Linked DNA regions of Homo sapiens. The protein of the gene in region 1 interacts with the protein of each later gene in a pairwise test. Each region holds a gene or a part of one and is shown in the gene's direction. Other genes may lie near its edges.

Region 1 (7,000 bases):
AGGAGCCAGGTGAGCGCTGGGGCTGGGGTCCCTGGACCTGCTCTCTCAGAGACTTGCAGAGTGGCCCTCCAGGGCGGCAGGTCGCAGCAGTTGAGGTTTGAACCCCAGCTCCTTGGCTTGCTAGCCCAACAAGAGGTCGAGGCCTTGCCCTCAGAACCTCCCTTTGCTCCCAGCCTTGTGTCGGGGCTGCTGGGAGGGTGTCTAGAGACCTCCTATTCCGGGGTCTGGCGAGGGTCTTGCCAGCGAGGCGGGTCTCCACCACGCCTGGGCCAGGGAGGCTGGTGCTGATGTGTGGCTTTGACTGCTCCAGCTGCCTCTGCTGTCCCTGCTCCAGGCAGGACTTCCCCACTGGGAAAAGCAGCCGGCGCAGGCCCCAGCGCTCCTACAGCTCAGACAGACAGAGGCGTCTCAGGGGCATATAGTATTTCCCCCAGAAGAGGGCAGGGGGAGCTGTGAGCCACGGTGGTCCTGACGCCTGCTGAAAAGTGACCTCGGCCCAGGAGGAGGCGGTCCTCCTCTTAGACCCTCCCTCATGTGACAAGATACCCCCCACCCCCCGCAGGCCGGCTGCTGACCTTCAAGCCTTGGGCAAGCCCACCTACACGGCTTGGTGGTCACCGCCTGTGGAGTGGGGCTGGGGCTGGGGCTGAAGTGAGCGTCAGGCTATGGGAGTACTCCTGCATCATGTTCAGCACACTGAATTTTGCATTTTTGCATGGTTTTTTTCTTTCTCTATTTTTCTTTCTTTCTTTCTTTCTTTCTTTCTTTTTTTGGACCAATTTACCTTTTTAATTTCCCTCTTTAATTTCAATTCCACATTGCCGGACATGAAGCTCATTCCTCTGACCAGGGGTTGGTGGTGTCATAGGGACTTAGGGATGAGGGTCACAGGGTCATGGGCACAGGATAGAGAAGTACTGGCTATGGGGTCTGACCCCCACCCCTGCCCAGGGCTAAAATCCCCTAGACACACCCTGGAGAGCCTGTGAGGGCCCCCCACATTCTCACTGCAGATGGTTTTGACCAGGTCAGCTATTGCCCTTAAACCCTGAGCTGAGGCATCCCAGAGAAAGGGATCTCTCCCTTACCTGCTCTGTGTCCTTGAGCAAGTGAGAACCTCTCTGAGCCTCAGTTTTCTTGTCTATAAAATGGAGGCAATAATACCTCCTAGCAGCCAGAGAATTGATGAAATATGATACATCAAGTGTGCAGCACAGGCCTAGCACATAGTAGGTGCTCAAGACATACCAGCTACTACTACCACTGTTACTCAGTCACTTCCACTACCCTCTGCTCTCCCCTGCAACAGCGATGCGAGGGACAAGAGAACTTGACCAGCAGGAGACTGGGTGATAGCTCTGTCTGTGCTTTACTCTGGCCTGAATCCCCAAGGAAAGCCCCCTCTCCATTGCACAAGCCTTTATCCTGATCCCACTCTAGGAGAGATCCTGTGCTGGCCTCTTGGTAAACAATTTTGGCCACAACAAGCACGTCCATGCCCCAGGAACGCGAGGCCATGAAGGAACGAATTCTTGTTCAAGCCCCTTGACGAGGTTCCCAGGCCCGCAGGTTCCCCTCATTCCAGAGCCTCCCCAGCCTCCCCAGAAAGGCTTCTTAGACCCACTTGGTCACCAGAGAGTAGCAGCACAAAACTGAACTGTGGTTAATGTGAGTAAAAAAAAACCCTGTCTCGTCTTCTGTTTAGATTAAGTTAATAGAAACTGAGTTATTGCAGCTGACACAGCTGGAGTTAAAGAGGAAGTCCCTGGACACAGAGTCACTCCAGGTATGTAGGGCTCCCTGCCCCTGCCCTCCTTCACGTGGTGAGACCCCCACCTGGTGCTCCCTCCCAGCCTCTGGCAGCTGCTCACCAGCCCCTGGGAGTCAAGGGCTTCCCCAGCAGACAGAGGGCAGAGCTCCTCTGTGGCTGTGACACCAGAGGACACCCCCCAGCCCCAGAAGGCCCAGCGCAGGCCAAGGTTAGAGGTGGTCAGCCTGTTGCGAGGCAGGAGGGTCAGAGGAAGGAGGGTTTCATTGCCAAGGCTCCCCTGCTCATCTCCATCACTGTGTCTCCTGTGCTGGGTGCGGGCCCGCCGCTGAGCTCCTGTCTCTCTCTGTAGGCCGTGCTTTAGGCCCCCAGGCACACATCCTCCAGGGCTGGAGCTTTTGGGTGTCCCGGGTTGTCTGGAGGAGAGGGCCCAGCCGCATCTGTGTAACTCCCTGCAGGCAGCATCTCTGGGGCTCCAGCCCGGGAGTCCTGCGCACACAGATGAGAGGGCAGCAGGGACTGGCAGCTGGCGTCCTGGACTGGATGCCTGGGAGCCGGGTGTGGCCCAGCACAGCCCTGCTGTGCAACTTTGGCAGGTGGGGGAGGAGAGGCAGCCCTTTCCCCTCTCTGAACCTCAGCCTCTCCAGCTGCAGACGGAGGGCTGGATGGGATGGTGTGTGAGGACATGTGCCTGTGCCAGGAGTTTGAGCAGAGCCTTCGGTCTGTCACTGTCCCTGTGTCTGTTCTCAGTGGAGAAGTCTCAAGCCATCCCATGGACTCCTCAGTGCAGTGAAGGGTCTGGGATCTGGATCCCTGGTCTCAGGTGCACCGCAGGTGTGCTGTGTGCCCTTAGACAGGCCTCTGCCCCTCCAGGCCTTCTTCCCCTACTCCATAAGATGGCAGCGGTCCTCCAGGCCCAGCCTGTGCCATCAGGCCATCGGAGAAGGCTGAGCTAGCAAGGGAAAGCCCTTTGTGAGCCTTGAAATGATCTCCAGAGATGAGGGGACTGGGACTGCTCTCAGAGAAGCTGCGGTCATCATGCCTGGCGGGTGCCCTAGTCCCTGCCCACAAGTGTGGCAGGGCTCTGGCTGTTGGGGCCCCCATGGGGTTTCCAAGAGCAGGCGCAGGAGTGAAGCAGGGACCCCAGGCTCTGGTTTGCACGCACCTCCATTTGTGTGGGGCCCCACACTGCTCCCCGCCATTTGCTTCTGCCCATGTGCTCTGTTGTCTGGGAGACCAAAGGCAGGCACCTGTGGCTTGTCATTTCTTTTGTTTGATGTTTCTTACCATCCCATTGTCATCAGTCACCAGGATCCCATGCCTGACTTAACCCCACAAGGAAGAGAGATGCGGGCTTAGGGTAAGGGGGCAGAAGGGCCTCTTAGCTTTGTCCCCCAACGCAGCCTGGAGGCATTGGGCAGAGAACCGAGTGAGCGGGAGGCCAGGCCCTTCTCCATCCTGCCACTGCGGGACTCCTGCGCTGCCGCCAGCTCACGGTGGTGCGGGGTGTGGTCTTGTTCGCAGGAGATGATCTCGGAGCAGCGCTGGGCCCTCAGCTCCCTGCTCCAGCAGCTGCTCAAAGAGAAGCAGCAGCGAGAGGAAGAGCTCCGGGAAATCCTGGTATGTGTTTGGCTTCTGTGCTCAGCATCACACAGGCATTTGCTTTTCTTTAACAGACTTGCCATTTTTAGAAACACCTGTTATTCAAGTAAGAGTTATTCATCAAAGAAAAACTGGAAAGTACAAAGGAAAATAATTGCATTTCCAAGCGTTATCTCCTGCCATTTTTTATTTGTTTGTTTGAGACAGGGTCTCACTCTGTCGCCCAGGCTGGAGTGCAGTGGCGCAATCTCAGCTCACTGCAGCCTTGACTTCCTGGGCTCAAGCGATCCTCCCACCTCAGCTTCCCGAGTAGCTGGGACTACAGGCATGTGCCACCATGCCTGGCAAATTTTTTTATTTTTTGTAGAGATGGGGTTTCGCTATGTTGCCCAGGCTGGTCTCCAACTCCCGGGCTCAAACGATCTGTCTGCCTTGGCCTCCGAAAGTGCTGGTTTTACAGGCATGAGCCACCGCGCCTAGCCTCTCCTGCGGTTTTGATGCATATTTTCCAAACATTGTGATGCACCTTTATAGCTGTTCGTGTATGCGCCTTTTAAACGTGGCATGCTGCATACCCTTTTCGAGCAGCCTGTTTCCGCACATTCTTTTCAAGTCATTAAACTATTCCTTGACGTCCTTTCTCAAGGCTGTCCGTGGCCCCTATTGTTGAGTATGTGGATTACTTCTGGTTTTTAAACTTTTCTAGGCAATGCTCTCCGAATGCCTTTGTAGTCGAGTATTCGGGAACAGCCATGAGTATTCACTCCAGACAGGACTCACTATGTCCAGGGCAGGCCGTTTGATAAGCTTTTGGCAGGAGTGGCCCAGCTGTCCCTGTCCCCTGATGGGTTTGACACTGGCACATTTTCAGCGTGGCAGAGGCCCCCTTGAGAGTGTCTCCTCTAGACCCAGAGGGCACCCAAGCAATGAGGACAGAGGCCAGGCTCACCATCTGGGGTGGAAAAGACCGAGTCGTTCCTGTGTCCCCGTGAATGCACCAGATGCCCTCTGAGCTGCGTCCTAGGCCGGGTCCTGTGCAGGTTTAGAAGAGAGAGACCAGCTGCTTCTGGAGCCCTGAACAAGCCAAGTGGTGCCTGTGCCCATCAGAGGAAGCTGCCTGTTCCTCACGGTGCCCTACTGCCATCTCCTACGCATCAGGTTACTTTGCAGATGGTGCCTTGGCGCTGTGCCTTAGCAGCCAGGTACTATGGCTGGTGCCCCTGCCCTTGTAGGCCTTGGGGGTCACCACCAAAGGAGGAAGCACCGCCCCAGCAGAACACAGCCCATCCGGCTCCTGGGCGCTGGAAGAGAGGGGCTGCAGCCCGGGAGGGCCAACGACGGAAGGGAGCAGTGGGCGTGGCCAGGTCCAGGAGGGGCCCGCAAAGGGCAGTCAGGCCCAGCAGGGATTGAGAAACGCCTGTGTTGATCCCACTCCCCATGTCATGCCAGCCCTCACTGAACAGCTCCGTTGTTCTGAGCACGGGCTCTGGAGCAAGACAGGCCTGGGTCCAATTCCTGGCCCCACCCTGGGCAGGTTACTCATCACCCTGAACCTCAGCTCCCTCACCTGGGAGGTAGAATCTCCTTCCCGGAGTTGTGAGAATTAATGATGGCATCGTTAGGTGCACAGCATGGTCTGGCACATGGCACTGTGAACATGTCAGCTACGCCTGTTGTCACCGTGGCTGTTATCAGCATTGTTTGTTCACTGCTGTATTCCCAGCACCTAGAACAGTACTCAACGAAGAGTTATCGAATGGCAGAATAAAAGAATCACATTCAGGCTGGGTGCAGTGGCTCACGCCTGTAATCCCAGCACTTTGGGAGGCCGAGGTGGGCAGATCACTTGAGGTCAGGAGTTTGAGACCAGCCTGGCCAACGTGGTGAAAACCCCATCTGTACTAAAAATATAAAAATTAGCCGGGCATGGTGGCACACACCTGTAGTCCCAGCTACTCGGGCACTCCAGCCTGGGTGACAGAGCAAGAGTCCATCTCAAAAATAAAATAAAAGTACCAAGTGCTGTCCACCCGCTCAGAGGAGCATGGTTCATAACCATCATTTTGGTTTTGTTTTGTTTTGTTTTTTTGAGACGGAGTTTCGCTCTTGTTGCCCAGGCTGGAGTGCAGTGGCGCGATCTCAGCTCACTGCAACCTCTGCCTCCCGGGCTCAAGAGATTCTCCTGCCTCAGCCTCTCGAGTAGCTGGGATTACAGGCATGTGCCGCCATGCCTGGCTAGTTTTGTATTTTTAGTAGAGGTGGGGGGTTTCTCCATGTTGGTCAGGCTGGTCTTGAACTCCCGACCTCAGGTGATCTGCCCACCTTGGCCCCCCAAAGTGCTGGGATTACAGGCATGAGCCACCGCGCCTGGCAACCATCATTGTTATTACAGGTTTTATTACCATTTTGTGACTAACATTGCCTGCTTCATTCCTGGCAGACGGAGTTAGAAGCCAAAAGTGAAACCAGGCAGGAAAATTACTGGCTGATTCAGTATCAACGGCTTTTGAACCAGAAGCCCTTGTCCTTGAAGCTGCAAGTAAGGACTGCTGGTGCCTGTCCCGGCCAGGGAGCCCTGGGGACCTCCTCCCAGAGGCGCCTGTGGTGCCTCCACCATGCTCTGCCTCTTGTTACTTTTCTGGTGACTCTAGCATGCCAGATCCTGTGCCAAGCCCCAGTGGAGACAGAAGCGAGAGTAAGGGAGTGTTCATTCTGGTGAGGGGGACGACAAGGCACTGGTCACTGCTGTGCAGGGCAGAGACCACTGAGCCCACAGTAGAGCAAAGCCTGTGCCGGGAGCCACTGTCTGTCCAGCACCTGCGGGGACAGAGAGGCAGTTGAAACAGCCCCCTCTTGGTGGATGTTCAAGTTGCTTACTATTTTCAGGTTTGCAGACAGAGCGGCAGTGAACCCCTGGGCCTATCTATCTATCTATCTCTGTGTGCCTACCTATGAGTTTTTGTAGGAAAAATCCCGAGTACATTCTATGTATTATGTTATAAATATTCAAACCCTTCATTTCCTGTTGTAAACAGTGGGTTCTTTTCTTCCTTCCTGCTCATGGTACACGTTTCTGTCTTGCAGGAAGAGGGGATGGAGCGCCAGCTGGTGGCCCTCCTGGAGGAGCTGTCGGCTGAGCACTACCTGCCCATCTTTGCGCACCACCGCCTCTCACTGGACCTGCTGAGCCAAATGAGCCCAGGGGACCTGGCCAAGGTGGGCAGCAGCCGTCTGCATGGAGGGGAGGGGCACGCAAGGCCGCTGTCCTGACCAGCCGGGGGTTGATCTGCTCCTTGTGTAGTCCTCGTTGAGGCCTGTCCTTACCTAATGGCCCAGGGCCACCTTGCTTCCAGATGGCCAGAACACCTGCCCATCTGCCCCAGCCGCCTGTGTGTGCCCTGCACACTGTCTCACTGGGAAATCCTGGGGAGGTGGGTCCTGCTGACCTGATCAGACTGGATCTTCAGACTGGAGGGACAAGACAGGCCCTTGGGGCTTATCTGATCCAGCCTCTGCCCTGCCTCATGGTGTCACAAACTGTCGTGGCCACAGCACTGCCTGAGCCCCTGTTCCTTTCTGGGCACAAGCTGAGCTCTTTACAGCACATTAATCCACTTATTCTTCAAAACA
Region 2 (8,637 bases), on another chromosome or scaffold:
TATGGCTGAGTAGTATTCCATGGTGTGTGTGTGTGTGTGTGTGTGTGCATTTACATTTTCTTTATCCAATCGTCTATTGATGGACACTTATGTTGATTCAATATATTTGCTATTGTGAATAGTGCTGCAATAAACATAAGAGTGAAGTTATCTTTTTAACACAATGATTTTTTTTTCCTTTGGGTAGATACCCATTAGTGGGATTTCTGGATCACATGATAGTTCTATTTTTAGTTCTTTGTTACGCTAATAGCCCAGACTTCACCGTTCTGCAATATATCTGTGTCACAAAACTGCACTTGTATCCCTCAAATGTACACAAATTTTAAAAAGTGAGACAAATATATATCCTCCAGCATGTAGTAAAGAGGCACCAAGTTTGGTCTCTCATTCCTCTTGCATAATCTACTCCTCATTTAATGGGCTGGAACCCTTCAGGAACTCCCTGATTTGCCTCTTCCTGGTGATCCTGGTATATGCCATCTCCCTGGCTTCCATCCTGTCTCCTAGGCTTGACTGAGGAGGTAGGTAGCTCAGGGGAGCCAGGAAGCCAACCCTGCCCCTTACCTCCAGGTCCATTTCATTTCCATAGTATTCCACACAGAACTAAAAGTATTCGTACTATTTTGTTTTTTTCTCTATGGAGAAAACTGAAAGCACTTTGGCTTTAAACCCTCAGCGAGAGTATTGCCAATGAGCACAGCCTCAGGGCTACTAGATTTCCTAGCAGGAGAGGACCTATTGGGAAAGCCCCTCCTCTCTCCAGTGGTCCCTTCCACTCACTGACAACCTCCATCCCAGCCCCAATGTTTGAAGTCTCTCCCTGAACTTCAGGCAAGCCTCCTGCTCCTGGGACACACACACAACCCCTTCCTTCCAAGGATGAAATGCTAATTATCAGAGATATTACAGACTAATGTCTTAAGGAGGAAGGAATTCATTTCCTAACTACCACATAATTTGCAAGGCAACACTCTCTCTAGCAGTCTGGACATCTTATTACTATGCAGATAAAATATGTAATTCCCTTCCTCCAACCAGTTGCCACCCTCATCCTCCTCACCATCCAATTTTAAATTGTACTGTCTGGGCTCACTAGGAATAAGAGAAGCGGCCATTGTGGGGCCATATACTCATTCCAGCTTGCTCTTTAACAAAGAGATGTTCGGCTATTGCTGCACCATTAAGGAATAGATTAACTTCTTATTTAAAAGTCTGTTCTGCCCTCCATTTCTAACTAAGCAGGAGGGGAAGCAATGGATTACTCCTTCCCTTCATAAGTATAGGTAATTGATGACCTGCGAGCACAATAGCAGGTCACATGGTCTGACCAAGGTTTTATTTTTTTCTGAATTATGATTCATTTTCATTAAGTATTACAAAGGAATAAAAATCCAGCTGGATTTAAGCATTTTGTGCAGCATTTAATGAATCACCTTTCCTGAAAAAAAGGAAAATTACACAAACTCTCCCAGAAAATCCAGCCAGCACAGTCATCATAGCTTTATGATACAGAATCGAGTTAATTATGAAAAACACTCAATTCCTTAAAGAAATCTCTAAAAATCTTGAACATCATGGCCATGTATCCTGGTGAGGCTAAAATTGGTCAAAAGCAGAGCGGAATAACAAATGATAATTTCTGCTAAATAATTCAGGCTATCTGAACTCTGATATTTTACAGACTTTAATGAGTATAATGGGTCCAATTAGAGACTGCTTTCCTTCACCATGCCAGGCTCAATGTGCCCTCTCTTAATTGTGGGCCCCGTTTTTATTTGGATAACTCATCTCTACAAATTTGTCCTGAAATCCCAGTATCTGGCATTAATAGCTACTAACTGTATGTCAAAGTCAGTCACTGAGTAAGTTTTGATGATGATTATCATGAAGAAAAAGAGATTGCACCGGGGCCGGTCAGGGGGTGGGGGGGCTAGGGGAGGGATAGCATTAGGAGAAATACCTAATGTAGATGACAGGTTGGTGGGTGCAGCAAACCACCATGGCACATGTATACCTATGTAACAAACCTGCACTTTCTGCACATGTATCCCAGAACTTAAAGTATAATAAAAAAATTTTTTAAAAAAGAAGAGAGTAGAAAGCAAGGCAAAAAGAGAGAGAGACAGCTTGCAGAACAAAAACTAGATATTTCAATACACTAGTTCGTCTGGGTAAGTCTCATTTGTAAAAGAATGGAATGGGTTTCTCTCACACGTGGCCTTTCTTTCTCCCTGCGCAGGGAAGTGATGCCGACATGGTGGATAAGAACAAGTGCTGCACACTCTGCAACATGTCATTCACTTCAGCGGTGGTGGCCGATTCCCATTATCAAGGCAAAATCCACGCCAAGAGGTTAAAACTCTTGCTAGGAGAGAAGACCCCATTAAAGACCACAGGTACGTGCAGGAACAGTGATCGTGGGGAGACCCTGAAAACCAAGTGCTGGCCTGTCTTGCAGATCATGCTCCTCCTTCAGACGCAGTTGCCAGAACCAGAGCCTAATGGTAGACGTCATTCAAAGCCTAAAGGGATGAGTGGCTGACCTCAGCAGACCTGGCTGTCCTAAGACCCCTAAATACCATTTCAGGTGCTCATTCTATCACCCTAGTTCCTTTCGATGAAGTAATGCAGCAGCTTGCATCTGCTGAAGAGCTGTGTGCATTGTCTATCATTCCTACTGTGTATTATATAAGATGTGATATCTATTCTGTTTTCTAGATTCCGTCTGCAATTAGTGTGGATCATGCATGCTGTGTCATGTGTAATAGAGAGGTCCCCTACCAATGTCTATAATGCAGGACATCATCCTTTTTTTTACCTTGGCAGGGGAGAGTGGGAGGAAAAGAAAGGAAAACTATAATCTTTAAAAGTACTTTAGTGTGCCAAGAACTGATTTATTTATTTTTTTTTCTGAGATGACATTCTCATCATCTTTGCAGGGGATCCTGTGATTCATCTTGCAGGAGATCCTGTGATTCAAGCCTATTAACTTTCACAAGTAAAACCTTAAATATTGATAACCGATGATTTGACCTTCTAATTGCTTAACTAAAATAAATTCTTCAGAGGTCTATCACATCATGAAACTAAAACACTGTTATAATTTAATCAAGATAAACTATTTGGACAAGATTTATGTTGTGGCAGAAATGTGACCAAACAGGTTAGAATCCAGAGAAGTTGGGGGCGTATTTCATGGTGCCTACTCTTTCCATGCGATTAAAATTTAGCAGTACATTTTATCTGCTGTCTAATGAATCATGCATAAACTGTAGGTGTAATTATTTTGTAAATGGCATTTTGCAAACTGGAGAGAGCCTAAAACAATGCTTGGCTTTTATCCTTACCACTGTTTTTCTTAAGAAAAAATGTATTCTTTTACCTAGAGAATCACAAGGAATCATTTTACTGTATTTTTCTATTTAGTTTAACTAAACAACATTGTTTTTGTAAAGGTGGCTGTGACATTCAGGCATAGGATGAGGTTGCAAAACACATGAAATCTGGAGACAAGCTCAGTATGTTTGGGGGCACAGGTTGTGTTTCAGCCTTTGACAAGCAGCCAGTCAATTGAAACTCCTGATTCTTGCTCCCTTAAATGTTGCATATTCACCTTGTAACCTACTCCCCATCAAATCTCTTAAAATAGACACCTCAAAAAAACAGTCACTGGAAAATTTTTACCTGTTTTCCATGAATTAATAACCAGTCCATTTGTTCTCTCTGCTGAAGCAGAATATTACTGTTAAATTAAATTTTGGAGGTAATGATGGAAGAGGAGAAGGTGTGTGTTTGCTTATCACATCAATTAGCAAATGGGAGAGTTATTCTTTCTGCAAAAAAAAAAAAAAAAAAAAAAAAAAAAAAAAAAATTGCCACATGGCAAAACCAGTTCTTTGTGAATTTAAATACAGCTTCAAGACAACCAAGCATCCAATTGTTTTCCTGAATTCAAACACCCTCAGATCTGGGAAATAGAACTCGAGTGTAATTTGTTAGCCATCATCAATACATTCCAAAGGAAAAGGAAAAAGCGAAGTACAGCCTTTACTTAATGGCTTAGTCTTGGCTGTTCATGGGACTAGCTCAGCCCTCCCTGTTGCAGAAACCAGGTTGCTGGATAGGCAAGAAGGGAACGAATAGGGTGTGGTGCACCGAAAGCTATGGCTCAGGTTGGGCCTGCCTTGCGCCAGCTCCCCCTTCACACCCAGCTTATACCCCCTTCTGCAGCTTGCCCTCCCATCCATTCCCCTCTGTCACTGCTTTGAGCAGAAAGGATCTTGGAAAGTGGCAGCACCAGACAGATCAGAGGGCCTAGGAAGCTAAACTGGCTCCTGGCTTGGGTTGGTGTCAACCCAGCTGTTGGCAGGGAGCAGAGAAAGCAAGGCCTCCTACTAGAGGGAGCAAGTAGTCAGACATGAGGCAGTTTGGTCAATAGGAGAAAAGACATGCAAATGTATGCAATGTGTGTACACGAGCGCCTTCAGAATGAAGACCCAAATGCAGTAGAAATTGGCCATTTTTATGGTTACTTCAACAAAGTAAGGGCAGCCTTGTAGAAATATGATTGCACAAAAAGGGAACGATCTAATGCTGTTGGACAGAGTGGGGACACCTAGCAAAGCCTGTCTGTCTAGATTCTTCTTGGCCTCTCTGAGCAGCACTCCTTCCTTCTGGGTGTGGGGCAGGACCCTCTCTGGAAAGGGGGTCTCATGTCCTACTCTCCAGCAAGGTCAAACAGATAATTTCTTTATGGTCAGTTTTTACACAGAAAGGTGAGGGGAGTGAGGGGAAGTTAGATCAATAGTTTTTAGGTTTTATGGCTGGCTTTGGGGAAAAGGCGGTTCTGGTTTCTAAGATCTGCCTTGGAGAAGCAGGTTTCCAGGCTATCCTTGGGGGAGAATGGGACTGGGAGACAGGAGGGTAGGAGAATGTCAGAGAAAAACTTCACTTCTGAGGCTGCTGCTCAGGTCTTCATTTTGAGATATTGTTTTGAGTCCCAACAGCAGAAGTAGGCATTGTGGGGGTGTCCCAGGTTAAGGGTTGAAGGCCTGATAGGAGGATGGCACCAGCATCGGAGGCTCTGGGCCCAGGGAGCATGCAAATGAACCAGCAGTGTGCCGGTGTTGGGAAAGCCTGGCAGATGGTAGCAAGGCCTGCTGCAGTCCTGGGTTCTAGGAAAGGATAGGCTGAGAAGACCATGGCAGGACACCACCATTTAATACAAGCATGCTGGGCTGGAGACCACGCGTAGAAAACAAAACAGGAACCTGAATTCTAGCCTTAGAGTATAAGGTGGAGGCTTGTTCTCAAGTTACTGCAAGTACAGGAGAAAGACCAGGAGGCACTGGAAAAGAAAACCCACACTATGGCCTCCTGAATTATCAAGTACAGCTCCCTGAATGGAGTCCGGATGGCCATCCTCCCTTACTGCCTGCAGCCACACCCAGCAGCAGCTTCTCCAGGGCTTCACCTTCCACGTGGTGGCTGCCTTGTGCTCCTCTAGGAACCGCTCTGCCTAATTAACCAAGCTGGCTTGAAATTGCTTCTATAATAAAAACAAAAGGAAAAAAAAAGGAACACAGAAAATCCAGTCAACTGAATCAAGATGTAAGAGAAACAATTTTGCTCAGGTATGCTGCCCCCACCCCCGTGAATAACAGGCTCTTGAACTGGGGTGATTTCTGTGTTGGAATAATTGAACCACAACTCATTGCTTCTGCCAGCTACTTCGTCTGATGAGGGTGAGCAGTTGGGATCTGTGAATCACTACCTTTCCACCCCCTCCAGCTGCCCTTTGATCAAGCATCTTCTGGGTCTCCTGCAGAATGAGTTGCAACTTGAGTCGCCTTCTCCAGATGGGTGCATGTTTACTAGAATTTCTGAAATGCTTGGCAGAGCCGCTGGAATAACACTCATTCATTTACATATTGTCTGTGGCTGCTTTTATGCTGCAATGGCAGAAGTGAGTTGTTATAACAGGGATGATCCAGGTCACAAAGCCTAAAATATTTGCTATGTGGTTCTTTACATACAAAGTTTGACTCTTGATCTAGAGACTGGATGATCTTGAGGAACATGCATCAAGGAGGCAAAGGGTTTTTTATACAGAAACTCACAACGGGTGCTAGGGTGAGTGTCTGTATAAAATGGAAGCAGTCTTCCCAGGCTGTGCACCAGTCAGGAGCTGGGGAGGTGCCTGGGATAGAGATTGATGAAAAGGATGTGACTGAGAGCAGGCTCATACCTGTAATTCCAACACTCTGGGAGGCTGAGGCTGGAGGATTGCTTGAGCCCAGGAATTTGATACCAGCCTGGGCAATGTAGTGAGACCCTTTCCCTACAAAAAAATAAAAATTAGCCAGGCATGATGGCACATGCCTATAGTCCAAGCTCCTTGGGAGGCTGAGGTGGGAGGATTGATTTAGCCTGGGAGGTTGATGCTGCAGTGAGCTGAGGTTGCACCACTGCACTCCAGCCTGGGTGACAGAGTGAAACCCTGTCTTAGGGAAAACAAGAAAAAAGACCCCAGTCATTGGGTTTAGGGCACACTTTAATCCAATATGATCTCATTTTAGCTTAACTAGTTACAGTTGCAAAAAACCTATTTCCAAAAACATTGACATTCTGAGCTTCTAGGGGGACATAAATTTGAGGGGACACTAACCCGGTATATGAGCAAACTCCAGTTAACTGCTGGCAGCTGGCAAAGATCATAGGCCCTGATTCTGTGCCTGCCCCCAACCTCTTTTTTTTTATGATAAATCCATATCAGCAAGATCTCATTCAAAATCCTGAAGAAAACATCATTTAACTCTTCTCTTTAGAAACTTACTTTTGGAGAAAATATGAATGAGAGGAAATCTGATGTATGGAAGAAAATCCTTAAACTATAGTTATTCTCCATTTTCCACCATTCATCAAAGTGATTTTTAAGATTATGCATAATTGGAATGGTTAGGTTCTATCCAGCATTAATAAGAACATTCATCTGTGTCTGTAGCAGAGACTTTGCTTATCAGACACCCATTTGCTTTTTATCTGCCCCAGACTTGCAATTGATTGTGTGTTAAGACCTGGCTACAAGATGGAAGAGAGCCATTCAACTGCGTTAGACTTTGCACGAACAAGAAATAAGCCTTTATTGTGATACTTTGCGGTTGTATGGTATTACAGGAGAGTCTAATCTATCCTGGTGGCTACATTATCCCTTAAAGTTATTGTTTCAGTTATAAGCTTTTATGAACACATCTATCATTCACAGTAAAAATGGATATGAGTGCAATCTTTCATATAATTCCCAGACATCATTAGTTTGACAGGTAATGACATCAAATTTAGCAATAACCTTTCTTTCATTTTTGACCCTTCAGAGTTTGAAGTGGCCCTAGGGTTATGTGTGTCTTCAGTAACAAGGCTGGATGGATAGAGAACCATTCTGAGGTGTGCTCTGCAGGGACCACAGTTATTACTGCCTCTGTTCATGACTGTACCTCTGGGCACATAGTAGGTATTTAATTAATACTTGTTCGATGTGTAAAAATTGGAAGCATACATTAGAATAATAATAGGCAGTTAAGTGTCTATAGTTTTATTTTCAAATTTAGTTACCTTGGTTATTTAAATTTTAGTCAAGTATGATGGTAAAAAACAGTGGTTTTCCAATTTAACAGGAATGTATCATCCCTGTCCACTTGCTTGATCTTACAAAACTCCTTTCTTTGTAAAATAGGTGATATACCAAATACCAGAGGCCACAAACAGAGGCTGTGAAGTCAGACCCAGTTTTAAATTCTGCTTATATCCATGGGAACATTCACAGGTGGTTTTAACTGTTCAGCCCTCAATTTGTTAAAGGTAAAGTGACGGAAACACATTACAGAATTACTATAGTAAGGCAGAAGATATAAGTAAAATACTTACTATAGTGTCTGCCACACAATTCAGTGTGGAATGGATATATTATTGTATGTAAATACATACAAGTGTAAGCATACACACAACTGATCCTCATTGTTTGAGGATTCTGTATTTATGAATCCACTGTGATTTATTTGTAACTCCAAATTAATTCTCCTGGCACTTTTGGGGTTATTCCCAGACATGTGTGGAATTGTGAAAAATGTGAGTCATGCCAAGTGCACATTCCCAGCTGAGGTTGAACACGGTGACATTCTGCCTTCTTGTTTCAGCTCTCATTCTGTAAACAAGTCTCTCTCTCTTTTTTTTTTTTTTTGCAGTCTATTTAGTGTCACGTGTTTTGCACATTTTGTGTCTTTTGTTGGTGACTTTGCCATTTAAAATGGCCCCCAAGAGCAGTGCTGAAGTGCTATCTAATATTCCTAAGTACAATAAGGCTGTGATGAACCTTACTGAGAAAATAAGCTTTGCTCAGACATGAGTTACAGTGCCATTGGTGGTGAGTTTAAAGTTAATGAATCAAACATTTATATTAAATCAGACACATTTAAGCAGAAACACACATACATCAAGGTTGTATATTGATTGATCAAAACCTTGTAACCACAAGTTCCTAGGAACCTAACCCTGAATTTCTCCTAGGAGCAAAGTGATTTACTGGTATTTGCTGGTCTACTGAATAGAACATTTCAAAATCCAAGGCTCTCACTAAGT
Region 3 (8,637 bases), on another chromosome or scaffold:
CCATTGAAGTCTTACTTGTGGTCATTGATCATCATGTGCTTAATGTTTTAAATACTTATATAGCTCCTGTATTGTGATAAGGCAGTGTTGGATCACATGCATTTTAAAACTTAGAGTTAAGCAAATGTGTAATTTTAAATTAATTAATTAAAGGCAGCCACTAAGGTACTCAAGCGGATAAAGTTACCAAATGATTTACTTGTTTCTGATGGTAACATTCTTCAACAGCTCTTGATTTATATTAGTATGGATTACCTTACTCTAAGAAAACCTGATTCTCCAGTGGATAGATTTATTTTCAGCTAAACCTTTGTAGTCTGTACTTAACCATGAATTACTTCCTGGTTTAAAAAACAGGCGTAGCTATTTGTGGTATTTTTGTCTTGCGCCTTTGGCATCTTAGCGGTGTGAACCGGAGCTATGCCATCTGTAGTCAAGTGAGATTATTAAAAAAGGGGGGGTGGGAAGTGAAATGATTCACTGGAAAATTTCAGCACAGATTCTTAGGGAACGATAAGATAACCCTAGAAACATTCTTATTTGGTGTCATCTGCTGGTGGGTAGTGACAGGGAAAAAAAAGAAGGTACAACTTGTTTCTTAAGATTTTGCTATTTTGAAAATCAGAGAGGTGCGGTGTTAGAAAGGAAGAAAGAATTGCTTGCAGTGTCATTTAGCAGAGCTCTGCAGATGAATGAATAATTTTCCTCTCTCTTAATGCAAGTTGGAGCCAATGAGGTTCATTTTTAGCACGCAAAACCCAAAAGGCAATATTCTCATGTTTACGATGGTTGTCTAATTTCCTGATGGGTGTATGTGATAAAACTCTTTATGCTGAGATACTTCAGAAAGAGAAGGACCCGTTCCTAGAATGCTAAGTAAGTCTGTGGGGCCTAGATGAGCCATTTCTGAAGTCTGCTGAGTTTAACATACCTTCACTTAACGACACGTGTTTTAACCTGAATATATTGATTTCAGGGAATTCTTCCAGAATTACATTTGAGATTCGCCTAAAACATGATGTCTTTTTTTCTTTGCTTTCGTTTTCAGAAAGAAGACATAGCTCATCCAGCAAGCCGCCTTTGGCCGTTCCTCCCACTTCAGTATTTTCCTTCTTCCCTTCTCTGTCCAAAAGCAAAGGAGGCAGTGCAAGTGGAAGCAACCGTTCTTCCAGTGGAGGTGTTCTTAGCGCATCCTCATCAAGTTCCAAGTTGTTGAAATCACCCAAAGAGAAACTGCAGCTCAGGGGGAACACCAGGCCAATGCATCCCATTCAGCAAAGTAGAGTTCCCCATGGTAGAATGTGAGTATGGCCAAGAGGGTTTTTAAAGCTTACCTGCTGGAAATGAAACTGTGTACACTAGTGGCATGTGAGAGTGCCTGTGAGTAATATAAAAGAGAGTCTACTTGGGGAAGAATTCAAATGTATGTTGTATTGTTTCTTGATGTTTCCCTGTCATGTCATAGGAAACTTTTCAGAGTAGTAATAGCAGTGATAATAAGGTTACTAACATTTATTGATCCATTCTTGTGTGCTAGCTACTGAAACCTAACTCTATGTGTGTACTATGTCACTTATCACAACAACCCTATGGAATAGGTACTGTTACTATCCTCGTTTTCCAGATGAGGAGAAGGAAGCTTCGTGAGGTGGGGGAGTTTTGTCCAAAAAGGCCTCAAGTCACATAGGCCTGGATTTGTGTCCCATTTCTGTCACTTCTTAGCTGTAGGGGTTTGGGCAAGGCACTGTTTCTGTCTAAGAATAACAGCCACTATGCTGGGTTATTGAGAATATTTTAGTTAATATATGTCTAGCACCTGGCATAGTGTCTGGCCATAGGGGACGGTTAACAAATGGATACTGGCACTCCTGCTACTGCTGCTGTGGATAATAGTAATGATAAAAAGATGCAGAGATTCCCAGATGCTGCTGTAGAATTTTTGGGGGTCTACGGAGCAAATAGGGAAGCAGTGCTTCCTCCCTTCAGCCTTAGGTTCACATCACAGCAGTGATGAGGGAAGACTGAAGGAAGTTCACACCTGCCAGGCATGGCTTTGGCAAGTTTCCATGGTCACTCAGTAGATTGACAGGTTTCTTGAGGTCACGTGAGGGAGCAGCCACGCACTCCAATAGGAACATGCTTCGCCTTGTCATGGCATCCCTCAGCCTGGTGACGGATGGCTTTTCTTGGGCCAGCCTGCTTTTGGAGGGTATAGCACACATCGTAGGTCCAAGATCCGGTAACCTGGTTAATCTCAGGGTAGGGTCCAGCACCTGCTGCTGCATAAGGACCTTGCCAGCTGGGAGAGGATGTGACATCTTGCAGTCTCTCTACTGCTGTCAGGCTATTCCAGGTACAGTTGTTTGGGGCTGTTTGTCCTGGTTGCTAAGCCCCCAGCCCCTGTTCTTCTGTCAGAAGTACAGTACAGCAAGCTTGGTTTTTGTTCCGGGAGCAGTCTGAAAGCCACAAACGGTGCCAGTGTAGTGTGTAAGTCACTGGCCAGCTTAACAGCTGTTAGAGCACTGACTCCACTGAACAAAGTTTATACAACCTCATTGATTCAAATCTTCTTTACTTAGAGCTAGGCCTTTAGATAGGAACCAGGCCAGTTGTTAGCTTCCTACCAGTATTTTCAGTTTTACCAAGCAAAATGATAGTGTCAGTAAGATTCCAAGATTCATATCTTTGTTAATGGCACAGGTATTCCCTAAGCTCCTGTCATAGAAACATTTTTCAAGGACTGGAGAATTACCACTTTAGTGACACAACATATATTTATTAAACACTAGTCTCCCTTATTGACAGAAGCAAAGAACCTCTTCTTGGAGATATGTTATTTAGCATGTTTGAGTTCTCATAAGTCTTTAGTGACATTTATTGGAAATATTTGCTCACTCAGAAGTTTACTTTGTTTTGATGAATCCTTTCGTACAAATGGCAGTCCTCAAAAGATATTCTCCAAGGGTTCTGCAAATAGTCTTTGTTTCTTTTAGACCTTCTCATGTTTTGCTTCTTATAGAAATTGCATTGCATTGGGTATCAGGTCTGAGTTTCCCATTGCCTCATGTGTAAAATTTTTTGAAATGATGAAAGACCAGGCAAATTTGATGGTCCACTGAGGGTTTTGCCTCACCAGAAGGGCTTATAGACTTAATCAGTATGAACCTTACTAACAAAACTCATAAGGAGCCTTCCAAGAGGCTGGCCCTGTGCAGCGCTTGGGTAGGCCCAGGCTCTATCCTCATCCCTCTGGCTCACCATTCACCTGGGGGCTGCTGAGGCACTCAGGCACTGGTTTTCTCACTTCCTCCTGTGACAGCATGACACCCTCTGTGAAAGTGGAAAAGATTCATCCGAAAATGGATGGCACACTACTGAAATCTGCGGTGGGGCCAACCTGTCCTGCTACTGTGAGTTCCTTAGTCAAGCCTGGCCTTAACTGCCCCTCAATACCAAAGCCAACCTTGCCTTCACCTGGACAGATTCTGAATGGCAAAGGGCTTCCTGCACCGCCCACTCTGGAAAAGAAACCTGAAGACAATTCCAATAATAGGAAATTTTTAAATAAGAGATTATCAGGTAACTTCAAATTTTCTTTCTTCATAATGCTTCTCTATATATTAAATGGGCATTCGTGGGGAGCAAATCAACTGCAATCTAGAATTCCTATTTTTAAAACTGGTCAACTTCAGCTTTAGGAGGAAGTTCCTTAGTTAATATGTTTGTTCTTTTCACTCTTGGGTTTTAAAGAGCATGAGTGTGTGTGTGTGTGTGTGTGTGTGTGTGTGTGTGTCATGTAAAAGTAGCTTTCTAGTGGTGTATTTCTGAAGGAAGTAATACAGACTTAAACAATATCTTTTCTACCATCTGATGGCAGTAGTCACCCCCTGTCTTAGTGATGTTGCTGCTTTGTTGCAGCACTCACACGTTGTATATTTTTTATTTTATTGATAATGTGGCTTTTATTCCAGCTATAATTTATCTAACTGTTGATTTCTTCTATTTTCTTGCTTAAAAAATACATGGAGGAGAGTTTGTCAGGCCACATGTAATGCCTGTGTTCTTTTGACAGAAAGAGAGTTTGATCCTGACATCCACTGTGGGGTTATTGATCTCGACACCAAGAAGCCCTGCACCCGGTCTTTGACATGCAAGGTAGGTGGACTCCTGAAAGTCAAGTCGACCATCCTGATAAACATGGGTGACTGGGATGTACCACACTACTCCCACAGTCTCTCTAACCCAGAGAAGATGCTCTGTGGATTGTTGTGAATTGTGTAGGTGAAGGAATAACTTGGTTCTGTTGAAGAAAGCCTCAGATTGACAAAATGTGAAGTGCGTTGTTATAAATTATAATCTTGACAGAGGTTTTGTTTCTAATGAGCAGTGTTGTATCCACAGGAATAGTGTTCTCTCCCAGTCTGTTATTTTTAAAAACTTTTAATATTTCCATATAGGCTACCCTTGACTGTGCTTTAAATTATACTGGCTTAAAGCAAGTGCAGAAATTTCCCTTGCGTGTGTATGAACATTTAAAAAATGTGTCACCCATGGTCTTAAATTTTAAAGAACCACTTTTTAAAAAATCTGTGATTTTGAAATATCCCTGTTTTCTAGTTTAAAAAAAAAATACTGCAAGCCAGGCATGCCTGTAAGTCCCAGCTAGTGGGGAGGCTGAGGCAGAAGGATTGCTTGAGCCTAGGAGTTTGAGTCCAGCCTGGAGAACATTACGAGACCCATCTCTTTTAAGAGAAAAAAAAAACTAGATAAAATATATTAATAATTTATATACAAGCTAAGAAAATGTAATGGTCTTCCTTTTTGCTCTGGGGTCTTCCTTCTTTTAAAATGCCAGTATGCTAATAAGGTATATTTGCTGAAAAGTGTGGGTTATTGATGTGGGGTGGCTTCAGGTCATCAGTGAACACCTCTACATAAATGAGCTTGTATGTTGATGTGCATTTCTCTGGAGGGTGTCCCCAGCTACCCCCCAGATAGGTTCAAGAAGCATTCAGAGTCACTGCTTTGAAGTATGTAATTTTAAAACCTTAGAGGGAGGAAGTAAAAATGATAAAAGTTAGCATTTTCTTCTAAAAATTAATAAAATTGTTAGTGTTTTACTTTAAATTTTATTAAAGTGTATTTGAATAAAGGACTTCAGGCCCTGTCCCATGCCCCAGCCAGTGGAGGCATGTTACAGTCTTCTGGAGTGGGAAATTTTTAAGTGGTTCTTACTTTAAGCTTCTAATTTAATTTTAGTATATAGATTTTGTCTTACAACAGTGGTTCAGAACCTTTTTGGGGAAAAGGGTTGGTCAAGAGTACCTTTAAATATCTCATTTTTAAAAAAAAAAAACCACGGTCCATCTTCCGAGAATAAAATAGTGCATACACATACACATTCTGAATTTTTCTATCTTGGATTAATGGACACCCCCACCCCAAGCCCATCCTTGGATTTCTAGGTTAAAAACTCTCATAAAACAAACTGCTTTTTTTTTGTATAGGGTACTAATTGGACACACAGTGGTGTAGTGGTGGTGGTGTATGAAGATAGCCACCTGAGTTCTGTAGAATTATGTCAGTTTCAGCTGTCCCTAAGAGAATGTGTGAAAGCATGCCTCAGCCCTGTCCACATCATGATCACAACTTGCCATTCTCCTTCTGCGCTCTTCCTGCCTACCTGACTCTCAGTAACATGGATTTCTCAGTAATACAGTACCTGTGGGCAATGAGGTTTGCTTTTTTCAAACCCAAGATGTTCTTTTTCAGTCATTTACAAAGCGTGGCAGGGAACCACACCTTTAAGTGTGCAAGACAGTATTGTTGACTGTGAAAGAATATTATACAGCAGATGTCTAGAACTTGTTCATCTTGCTATAACTGAAACTTTATGCTCATTGATTAGTAACTCCTTATTTCGCTCTCCCTTCAGCCGCTGGCAGCCACCACTCTAGTTGTTGATTCTGTGAGTTTGATTATAGATCTCATATAAGTGGAATCATGCGGTGTTTAGTCATTATGTGACTGGGTTATTTATCTTAGTATAATGTCTTCAAGCTTACCTCATACTTGTTGTAGCATATTGCAGAATTTCCTTCTTTTTAAGGGCTGAATAGTATTCCAGTGTATGTATATACTATGTTGTCTTCATCCAGTCACCTGTTGACAGACATTTATATTGTTTCTACATCTTGTCTATTATAAATAATACTTCAGTGAACATAGGAGTTCTAATAGCTCTTTGAGATTCTGATTTCAGTTATTTTGGATAACTACCCAGAAGTGAGGTTGCCAAAAGTTTTTTTTCAACTCAAAATCTTCAAGGAGCTTGACTGGCATTCTTCCTGTGCCTTTATTGCTAGGTGGAGTGACTTTGAATGGGTCTGCATTTTTCTCACATCTTCCTTTTCAAATGATATATGCTCCCCTTGTCGTCCTTCTTTAAGGGTGTCATTACTCTCCGTGGCATTGGGCTAAGCCTGTCATTGCATTAATAAGTCTTGAGACCCAGCTTGTCATGAGATCAGCATAGAACTGGCAGAAAATGCAGCATCCACCAGGCCTGCCCTTTTACAGGATGACTTGACTTTTTTTCATTGTTTTGTCAGTTCTTTTCCTTTTCCTTGCCTTCACGTTGGTCTGAATCTATTAAGCTTGGTAGGGCTAAACATGCCTGCATGTCCCTACCCTGAGTGTTTCCCAAGTTGCTGCCAGGTCTCTTCTGTCTTAGACTTAGAACGTTATCTGTTCTCTTCACCGTCAGGGGATTTGCTGCTGTTCATTCCCATTACTCATTCTCTGTTGTCTGTCTCCCATCCTCACTGCCCCTCCTCACTTCTTCATCTGTCTAATATCCCGTCGAAAGTCCTCTGTGCCTTCCACGCGGAGAGATTTGTGACTCCTGTAGCCTTTGTCCATTCACTCATTGTAGAACTTTTTATTACGTACATCTGTGAGCACAGGCCTCACTCTTTCTAGGTCGCAGGGAATAAAGGGTTTAGCACAATAACCACGTGTTCCCTATGCTTGTGGTGCTTACAGTCTAATGAAAGAGATGGAGAGTATTAATCACCAAAATAACTGTAAAATTACCACTGATGAGTTATAAAAAGATGAGAGGACTACATTATGAAAGCCTGCAAAAATGAAGTTTTTCCAGGGAAGGCTTTCTTGCCATAGGAACATTGGGCTGAAATCAATGTGATGATTTATCTGGGCTTGAGAGGGATGGGAGAGGTAGGAGAGGTGGAGGAAACAATATGTGTGAAGGCTCTGTGACAGGGGCAGAGCAAATTCCTTAGAACCTTAAAGCCAGCCAGGTGGCTGAACAGAAAGAGGGAAGAAGAGGTACGCGGGACCAAAGGAGCAGGGAGCAGTAAGCAAGGGTCTTAGAGTGTGCAGGGTTCCGGAGCCTAGTTATGCAGTCAGTCTTTATCCTGTGAGCCTTGGGCAACCCCTATCGGATTTCTGTTTGGAATGTTCTTCACAGCTCAGTGGAAACCCTACTTAGGCTTCAAACTGAGCTGGGAAAATGTATCTGCCTGCTTTCTTCATTTGGCTGTACTGTGCTAGGCACCGGGAACATTCAAGCTGAGGAGAGGTTTATACATCTGCTTGGAGAGACAGGCAGGTGGACCAGTAATATTATATGTTCATTCGTTCTTTCAACACACGTTGGAGGGCCATTATTTTTATAAACTTTTTGTTTGAAGCATTTGAGCGTCAGGTACTCTTCTAGATGCTGGTACAACACAAACAAAACAAAGTTCCTGGTCTTTAGGTTACTTTCTTAGGGATATTTTCCATATTAAAGAAAATCAAGTAAAAATGTAAAAAGCTAAACACATTTGTCTGTGCCAGGTTAGATTATTTAGGTAGACATAGTTTGCAGTGTGTCTCGTAAGGAGGTGGGTTGTGTTATTCAACCGAAAATGGTAGTTAGAAGCATAATTCCCTTTTTAAGTCCCTAAAGTTGTACCAACTATGCCAATACATTTGTATTATGTGTAGGGGCATGCACACACACATTTACAATATTTTGTAATATAAAAGAAGGAAACGTGGGTGAATTCATTTATGTTTATGGATATGTGATTAGGGGCCACTGTAGCTCATGTAAACTCATCCACTCCTCAGGATTAGCATCTCCTTGCATTTTTACAGACTGAGATCTCAGCAGTATGGAATGGTCAGGTTTAACTTGAGTGATTGGACTCAACTGCCAATAAGATTTGCCCAACTCTGACCAGTTCACACTTGTACATTCAACTTTATCTTCTGTTAGCAATAGTATTAGGCTTATTTGTTTTGTTTTGTTTTAATGCCAGTAACTATGAAATGCGTTTGGACTACAGACACATTTTCTTATACGATTTGCTTCAACCACAGGTGTGTGTATTGGTTGCCTTAAGACAAACACTGCCATAATTTGACTTTTCTTTTTCCTCTGTGTATCCATTTCTTAATTCTGAAATTAGACATTGTCTGAAGACCCAGGGGTGTTGTCCATCCCATTTCCTTAATTTCCATAGCCAGTGTCTATCTATAGGGATTACTTTGTCTCCCTTCCTGTTCATAGCATTTCTTCTCAGCCTCATCTTCTGTCCAGTGCTCCTTGGCTGTGGCAGTCTGTCT

The links.
Region 2: the proteins of LRSAM1 (region 1) and ZMAT4 interact in binary tests that used the Homo sapiens proteins (3 or more experiments, as listed by UniProt).
Region 3: the proteins of LRSAM1 (region 1) and ATXN7 interact in a two-hybrid assay, tested with the Homo sapiens proteins (one study listed by BioGRID and IntAct).

Annotation. Positions count from the first base shown.
Region 1 is NC_000009.12:127,489,510-127,496,509, forward strand, and holds part of LRSAM1 (E3 ubiquitin-protein ligase LRSAM1), read left to right. Parts: coding exon 1-9; intron 10-1,705; coding exon 1,706-1,786; intron 1,787-3,292; coding exon 3,293-3,388; intron 3,389-5,810; coding exon 5,811-5,909; intron 5,910-6,454; coding exon 6,455-6,586; intron 6,587-7,000.
Region 2 is NC_000008.11:40,691,007-40,699,643, reverse strand, and holds part of ZMAT4 (zinc finger matrin-type protein 4), read left to right. Parts: intron 1-2,242; coding exon 2,243-2,399; intron 2,400-8,637.
Region 3 is NC_000003.12:63,978,867-63,987,503, forward strand, and holds part of ATXN7 (ataxin-7), read left to right. Parts: intron 1-1,048; coding exon 1,049-1,301; intron 1,302-3,319; coding exon 3,320-3,579; intron 3,580-4,072; coding exon 4,073-4,155; intron 4,156-8,637. UniProt on the Homo sapiens protein: Acts as a component of the SAGA (aka STAGA) transcription coactivator-HAT complex. Mediates the interaction of SAGA complex with the CRX and is involved in CRX-dependent gene activation.